Regions from separate parts of the Homo sapiens genome. Here region 2 is linked to region 1. The links come from fine-mapping of genetic effects on gene expression. Tissue or cell type: testis. Region 1 holds a variant in brackets; the other region holds the start of a gene. All regions are shown on one strand. Distances are between the middles of the regions.

Region 1 (4,128 bases):
GCTGGTCTTGAACTCCTGACCTCAGATGATCCGCCCCACCTCGGCCTTCCAAATTGCTGGGATTACAGGCATGAACCACCATGACTGGCCTTACTTATGCTTTAAACAATTGTCTAGGAGAGATTTAAACAATGAGGAAAAGTCTTTATGTAATTTACTTATGTAGTTATAATTGCTGGTACTCTTTATTCCTTTGAATAGATCCGTATTTCCATCTGGTATCATTTTGCCTTCTGATTCAGAAACTTTCTTTATATTCCTTTGATATTTCTTATAGTGCAGATTTGCTGGCGATGAATTCTTTTACCCTTTTCATGTCTTTATGTAAACTTCATTTTTGAAAGGTATTTTCACTGGTCAAAGAATTCTAGATTGACAGCTTTTTTGCTTCCAAAACTTCTAAAGATGTCACTCCACTCTTCTGGTTTGCATTGTTCCTGAAATAAATCTGCTGTCATCCTTATCTTTGTTCTTGTGTATGCAATGTGTCTATTTTCTCTTTGTGATCCTAACATTTTTCTCTTATCATTGATTTTAAGCAATTTGATTATGATGAGTATGGCTCTACTTTCCTTGTTTCCTGTGCTTGAGTTTCATTAAAGCTCTTGGATCTGTGGTTGAATCAAAACTGGAAAATATTTGGCCATTATTTTAATTATATTTTTCCTTTACCCTCCTCCCTCACGGACTCCAATTACACATATATTAGGATGCTCAAAGTTGTCCCAGAGCTCACTGGTGTTATTTGGTTCCAATGTTTTTTAAAAGTGTTTCCTTTTGGATAGTTTCTATTGTGCCTTCATATTCACTAATTTTTCACTCTGCAATGTCTAATCTGCTGTGAATCCCATCTAGTGTATTTTTTTATCTCAAACATTATACTTTTCATTTCTGTAAGTTTGATTTGAATCTGTGTGTCTTCCACATCTCTTCCTAACATTGAATTTTTTCTCTAGCTTCTTGGACATATGAAATAGTTATGCTATTAATTTTATCACCTGTGTTATTTCTGTATCTGTTTTGATGTATGTTTTCCCTCTCATTATGGTTTGTATTTACCTACTTTTCATGCATTTTTTTTAATGTCAAACATTGTGAATTTTACCTTGTTGAGTGTTGGATATTTTTGTATTCCTACAAATACTCTGGAGCTATGTTTTCAGATAAAATTTAGCTATTTGGCTTTTGGTCATTTCCTTTTTAGCTTTCTTAGGCAGGACCATGATAGTGTTTATCCTAGGACTAATTTTGTCCTGCTACTGCAGCAAAATCCTTGAGAGTACTACCTAATGCCCCATGAATTATGAGGTTTTCCAGCTGGTTGGTGAGAATATGAATTACAGTAGTCCCCCCACCTTATCTACAAGGGAGATGTTCCAAGACTCCAGTGGATGGATGCTTGAAACTGCAGATGGTACTAAGCCCTATATATGTGTTTTCCTCTCTATATATACACATATGATAAAGTTTAGGCCAGGCATGGTGGCTCATACCTGTAATCCCAGCACTTTGAGAGGCTGAGGCAGGCAGATCACTTGAGGTCAGGAGTTCAAGACCAGCCTGGCCAACATGGTGAAACCCCATCTCTACTAAAAACACAAAAATTAGCCGGGCATGGTGGCACATGCCTGTGGTTCCAGCTACTTGGGAGGCTGAGGTATGAGAATCATTTGAACCCGGGAGGCAAAGGTTGCAGTGAGCTGAGATCGCACCACTGCACTCCAGCCTGGGCGACTCAGTGAGACTCTGTCTCAAAAAGTGTAACTTATAAATTAGGCACAGTAAAAGATCAACAATAATAGAACAATTAATATACAGTAATAAAAACCTATGTGAATATAGTCTCTCCCTCTCTCAATTTCTTATTGTACTGTCCTCACCTATTTTCAGACCATGACTAACCACAGGTAACTGAAACCACAGAAAGCAAAGCCACAGATAAGGGGGGCCTCCTGCTGAATTCCTAGCTTTGTGTGATTAGATTGTTACCTCTAATCCCTTTCGATGGCTATTGTTCTGGGTGCCAGCAATTTGCTCATACACATACACTGATTCCTTTCTCAGCAAAATATTGAGGAAGATCTTGATGTGGTTTGACTGTGTCCCCACCCAATTTCATCTTGAATTGTAGCTCCCATAGTCCCCAAGTGTTGTGTGAGGGACCCAGTGGGAGGTAACTGAATCATGAGGGCAGGTTTTTCCCATTCTGTTCTTGTGATAGTGAATAAGTCTCAGGAGATCTGATGATTTTATGAAGGGCAGTTTCCCTGCACACGCTTTCTTGCCTGCTGCCATGTTAAGATGTGCCTTTGGTCCTCCTTTTCCTCCTGCCATGATTGTGAGGCCTCCCCAGCCACGTGGAACTATGAGTCCATTAAATCTCTTTCCTTTATAAATTACCTAGTCTCAGGTATGTCCTTATAGCAGTGTGAGAATGGACTAATACAGACCTTCTGTGTACCTCTCCCTGTGCCCCTCTGTGGCCTTTGGCCTGC[G/A]AACTCTATCCTCATTATATTCCCCAGACTCGCAGTTCTATCATCTTGGCAACTTGGAGAAACCATTAGGCTCTGCCTGGGTTCTCTCCCTGCCTGTGGCCTGGAAACTTTCTTGAGGTGGTAAGTTGGGACAATTAAAATGCTCACCTCTCAGGAATCACTGTCCCTCCCTACCTGATGCTTAATGTCTTGAGAACCATTGTTTATATATTTTGTCGTCTTCTTTCTTTTAGTTGTTTCAAGCTAGAAGGTGAATCTAGAGTCTCTTACTGCTTTTACCTGACAGAGAAAGTTCTCTTCCCTTTTTTCTGAAAGCTCCTTTGAATCAGTTTTGCTTTAGGCATTGAGATGTCACTCACAAGCTTATTTTCCTGGCTCTTCTTATCAGTGGGCATATTCTGACTTCCCTTACTTACTTAGGAGCAAGCAAATAGCCAAGACTCAGATTTGAGTTTTGGGTACGAGGTTAGTACTTCATTCAATAAACTTCAAATCTGTCTGGAGAAGGTATAGTGAGGTTAGCTCTTGCCCCGCTAAATCTCAACATTGTGTGCTTTCTCTGTCTGGCTCTCCACTGTATCCCATTTCCTAGAATGGCTTTTGGTATAGAAGGTATTCAGTAAATACTTACTTATGAATGAATAGACTGCCAAATAGCTTGCAAATTCTCTAACAGTTAAACATTTTATCAAATTAAAAATCTCAATGGTCAAAAACAGTATCAAACTAAAAACTCTAACAAATAACATTTATTTTTCTTTTACATATATATTTCACAGCCTGAACATCACATCTTCAGAGAAAGTTACTTTTATGCCATTGTATTTACTATTTACCACACAGGCATTGAACATTCTCATTAACATGATAAGACAATTTGCTGGTAAACATTTAAACACACAGACATTAGTTTCAGTATCTCAACATATTTTTGGTCATAACCAAGGAAATACATCAAAATAATGACAACATTGGCTAATATTTTACAAGCAAATATTTAACTCTGCATAGTTTATACAATAGGCTGTGGCAATAAATAATGTCACCAATCTCATCAACTATTAACTGGCCACAAGAAGCCTAACATTCATTTTAATTATGATATGAAATGCTCTATTGGTGTAGTTTCAACATATCCTTAAATGTTTGGGTGTTTAACCTTGAATACACGAAAAGAAAAAGTACTAAACTGGACTAAGAAGGTGTGTTTGGTTAACTACAAATATGTCATGTTCACATAGTACATTCCTAACATGAAGGCAAATATTTAAATAGAAAAACTAGCAGTCCAAAAAATGTGAATGTGCAAATTGTGAGTAAAACATTGCATTTAAATTTGCACTCATTTGCAAGTTACAGTACTAGCTCAGTATAAACACTAACAGGAAAAATATTCAGCAGGAAAGAATGGAAACGGCCTCTCACAGCAGAGAACTGGTCACTGCGCACTGCTCCACAGCTAAGAAAGTTTTCCAGGTGGTCTAGCGCTCCTAACAAACACCTTATGATTATCCTTCATTCAACAGAGGAGGAGACTGCAGGCATGCTTCAGTCAGTGGTAAGAACAGGAAGAAAAACCCAAATCAGCAACATTTTCTTCCTTAATTTGGTATAAACGTCCTTTTCATTATTT
Region 2 (4,128 bases), 240 kb after region 1:
ATTAGGTCAGTGAGTCTCAGGATCAGTGAATGGCTATTTCAGATAGCGTTGGGTAATGTTTCATAAAAGCTGAAAACGTTTCATGACTTATTTTCTTAGGCTGTATCAAAATATTCTTGGTATCAAAATGACTAGTTCAAAACATGTACCCATTTGATCTTCATAATAACAGTGTGAGGTAAACAGAGCCTGTCATTTCCATCATAAAGAAAAGGAAACTAAGGAAATATACCCTTCATTCAGCTGGGATTTTAAAATATGACTTAATTTTTTAATGCAGTATACTGGGATAATAATGCTATGTTATTACTGCCAATAAAGAGTTTTTTGTTTTGAAGGAGCTGTTAGATTTAGAATACTCTTTAGATCCTCAAAGGAAGTATTTGAGTGACTTCCAAACTCAAAAACCTCCGGAGCAAGGGAGATTTGTTTGTCAGCTTGGTTGTTTGTTTGTTTTTAGGTACTTGAATAACTTCCTCCTTGAAAAGGAGGGTGCAGAAATCAAAGGCCTGATTGTGCTGAATCCTTCTCTTTGGTCATTATTCAGACTGGTTCCCAGCATGCCGCAGTCCAGAGGAAAAGGTCCAAGTTCTGTTTAAAAATCAGAGACTAAAGAGCTTACTCAGCATCCTGCTCACATTAATGTTGCTTGTTTTCATCATTTAAAGTCTTTTGATAGTTCCTTGTATACAATAACCTTAGGCTTCTGGGAATATTCTCAGAACATAGGAAGCACCTCCCTGACTTAGTAAAGATGAAAAATGCTTTTCATGACTATCCCCTCTCTTGAAGGACCCCCTGGAACAGCCAGGTCTTTGGGCATAATTAAATTCTGGGCAAGATTTTACAGAAATGCAGCTTCTTTTTTCTAATTTAGTTGTGTGGTGTGTGTGTGTAAAGTGGGGGAGGTTCCACTTGGTGGGGAAAGGAGAATTTGCCATTGCTGCTCGTCTACTCAGGACTGTTTCTGTTGTTGTTGTGTTTCAGCATCAGAGAGTGAGAGTGTATTGCAGCAATCTGACTATTTGGAAGACTGTTCCTTGAATTTCCCAATTCAAAAGCCTCGGTAGAGCTGAGGGATGCTTGATACGTCAACACAGACCACAAAAGGCAGGGCTTTTCTAAAGAGATTATAATTATATCTACCTTTTGGGTACAGGAGGTGAATGGAAGGAAGGGATTCTGGAGCAGATATCCCAAAAGAAGAATCCCGAAGCAGAACTCCTCGCACAAGGTTATCTAAATCTCCTTGACAGGTGCACAGGCAGAGAAGGCATTTGGCCCTTGAAGTAACATTTACTTGAGAGGTTGGGACAATTCTGTCACGCTTAGGACAAGCCAGCTGACCCTGAGCCCAGGAGCACCCTAGGACTGCAGCACAGAAAATACACCAGCTGGCCGGTCGCCCCTCCTTTGTTCCATTCCCGGGGGATTGGAGTAGCGTTGGAGTCACCGACGCCATCCCCTCCCGCCTCTGGCGTGCATGGAGCATGCGCTTCCTTCCTCACTTCCTCTGCAGGAGGGAGCGAGAGTAAAGCTACGCCCTGGCGCGCAGTCTCCGCGTCACAGGAACTTCAGCACCCACAGGGCGGACAGCGCTCCCCTCTACCTGGAGACTTGACTCCCGCGCGCCCCAACCCTGCTTATCCCTTGACCGTCGAGTGTCAGAGATCCTGCAGCCGCCCAGTCCCGGCCCCTCTCCCGCCCCACACCCACCCTCCTGGCTCTTCCTGTTTTTACTCCTCCTTTTCATTCATAACAAAAGCTACAGCTCCAGGAGCCCAGCGCCGGGCTGTGACCCAAGCCGAGCGTGGAAGAATGGGGTTCCTCGGGACCGGCACTTGGATTCTGGTGTTAGTGCTCCCGATTCAAGCTTTCCCCAAACCTGGAGGAAGCCAAGGTATGTGAACACTTTTCTTCTTCCTACCTTCCTTTTATTTCGCCACGAAAAGGTAAAGTTTGGCATAATACGTGAGCTGTAAATCACCCTGACGCGTTTTCTGATCAAATCATATCCATGAATACGGACAGAGAAATCAGTTCGAATTTAGAGACAGAAGACAGATTTTTTTTCTTCACTTTTAAAATGATAGAGCAATAATATGGGTTGTTTTTAAAGATCTTATTTTGAAAAGGGAAGGGAACCTTTTTCACCTAAAGTGGCTTGGATTGTTTTCTAGTTGCCTTACAACCTTTCTCAGACAGTCTATTCATTATATATGCAGTATATGATGAAAGAGCTTTTAGTGTGCCAATAATACCAATCCAAATTATGCTCTCTCTAGCTGAGAATAGCTGATAACCCTAGTGTTAGAACTATATGTTAAATTTCTGGTCAGAAAAAAAAAAAAGTGTGATTCTGTCAGCTCAAGAAATACACCAAGATAATAAACAAGGCAATATTGATAATTACTATTATTGTATAATCTTGATAATCTTTGTTAATATGCATTTGTTTCATAGTCATCCAAAATTATTTCTCCTAATATTTTTCCTTTTTATAAAAATTTTATTTAATAAGAGGCATATTTTGTCCTTCAACGCACAATTAAATTTATATTCACATGTGTTTATTCTAGACAAATCTCTACATAATAGAGAATTAAGTGCAGAAAGACCTTTGAATGAACAGGTAGGTCAAAAGTAACATTATGAATGCTATTTCATTTTGATTTAGTTATTATTATTTAATGTAATTATGCTGTGACATTTTGGTCATTTTGAATTTACAAACATCAGGAACTTAATAGTTAATTGACAGAAATTAGGACGGGAAATCTAGTTTTGGTAAATTCTATGCCCTAGCAGTTATTTACATTGAGTTCTGTATAATGAATACATAGAGTAACTATATAATAACCCAGTAAGCTCAGCATCACATCCACTCTGTTGTAAGATTGCCTAATTTACCAGAGATTTCTCTTTCAACAATATTATAGGAGAAAGAAATTAACACTGACTGAGCATCTACCCTTAATTTTATCTCATTTAATTATTATAACAGTGCTCTGAAATAGGAATTATCCACATTTTACAAACAAGACAATTAAATCCCATGGAGATTAAATCATTTGGCTCTTGTACTTGGTAAGTAGTGGAGCAATGATTTTAAACCAAGTCTATCTCCTGTTTGCTTCACAGATTGCTGAAGCAGAAGAAGACAAGATTAAAAAAACATATCCTCCAGGTAAAAAGAAATCATATTGATGTTAATTTAAATAATGTAGGCTATGAGAATCTGAACTAAAATGGCTGTGTTGGGTTTGGGGCTATTCTTCCAGAAAACAAGCCAGGTCAGAGCAACTATTCTTTTGTTGATAACTTGAACCTGCTAAAGGCAATAACAGAAAAGGAAAAAATTGAGAAAGAAAGACAATCTATAAGAAGCTCCCCACTTGATAATAAGTTGAATGTGGAAGATGTTGATTCAACCAAGAATCGAAAACTGATCGATGATTATGACTCTACTAAGAGTGGATTGGATCATAAATTTCAAGGTAAATGAGAAAAAAAGAACTTTTTGTTAACGTGGAGTTTCCTATAATGGGTTAAGAGAAAGTCCAATATTTTAAAAATATCTTTTAAACATTCATAATCCTTTATTAGTCAAGTCCAAAATTGAGATAAAGCATATATTTACTGATAACATGTAGAGCCCCAGCTCCACAGAGTGCCATATTTTATTTTCCCTTTAAAAATTCCTTTAGTGATGCTCTGAAAACATTTTTTAATCTAGTATTTGTATTTTATGGTATTAAATTCATTTGAACATTCAGATTTATTTTAACAATGAGTACACACAAAATATCATAATTTTCAAATAATTAGATCAGTAAAGTACCCTCCCACCCTGCACAAAAAAGGTGAAATATCCACTATTTCCTTTTCAGTGTTTCCTCCTAGCCATATCTTTTCTCCTTAGGTCATCCTAACCTTTACGTGGCTTCAATTACATCTATATCCTAACATCCCATATCACTAGGCCAGACTTCTCTTAGCTATAGACCTATTTATCTGTTTACCTATTCGACATTTTCCCTTGGCAGTGTCAGAAGCACCTCAAATTTAGCATGCCCATGATTAAACTCATAATCTGTGTCCACTTCACAACCTAGACCTCTTAGAGTA

The links. PIP is the estimated chance that this variant, and not a neighbour inherited with it, causes the effect.
Region 2: it holds the start of SCG3, and the variant in region 1 is the best candidate, but not a certain one, in a credible set for the expression of SCG3 in testis (GTEx, PIP 0.62).

What each region holds. Positions count from the first base shown.
Region 1 is chr15:51,444,562-51,448,689 of GRCh38, forward strand. It overlaps DMXL2 (Dmx like 2), which reads right to left. Exons shown (of 44, transcript NM_001378457.1): 44 at 3,230-4,128. Among named protein-coding and RNA genes, the nearest start is that of GLDN, 100 kb to the left of the region's middle. The variant G/A (reference allele first, on the strand shown) is at 2,496.
Region 2 is chr15:51,679,938-51,684,065 of GRCh38, forward strand. SCG3 (secretogranin III) reads left to right here and starts at 1,566. Exons shown (of 12, transcript NM_013243.4): 1 at 1,566-1,900; 2 at 2,580-2,632; 3 at 3,142-3,187; 4 at 3,282-3,497. The coding sequence starts at 1,819.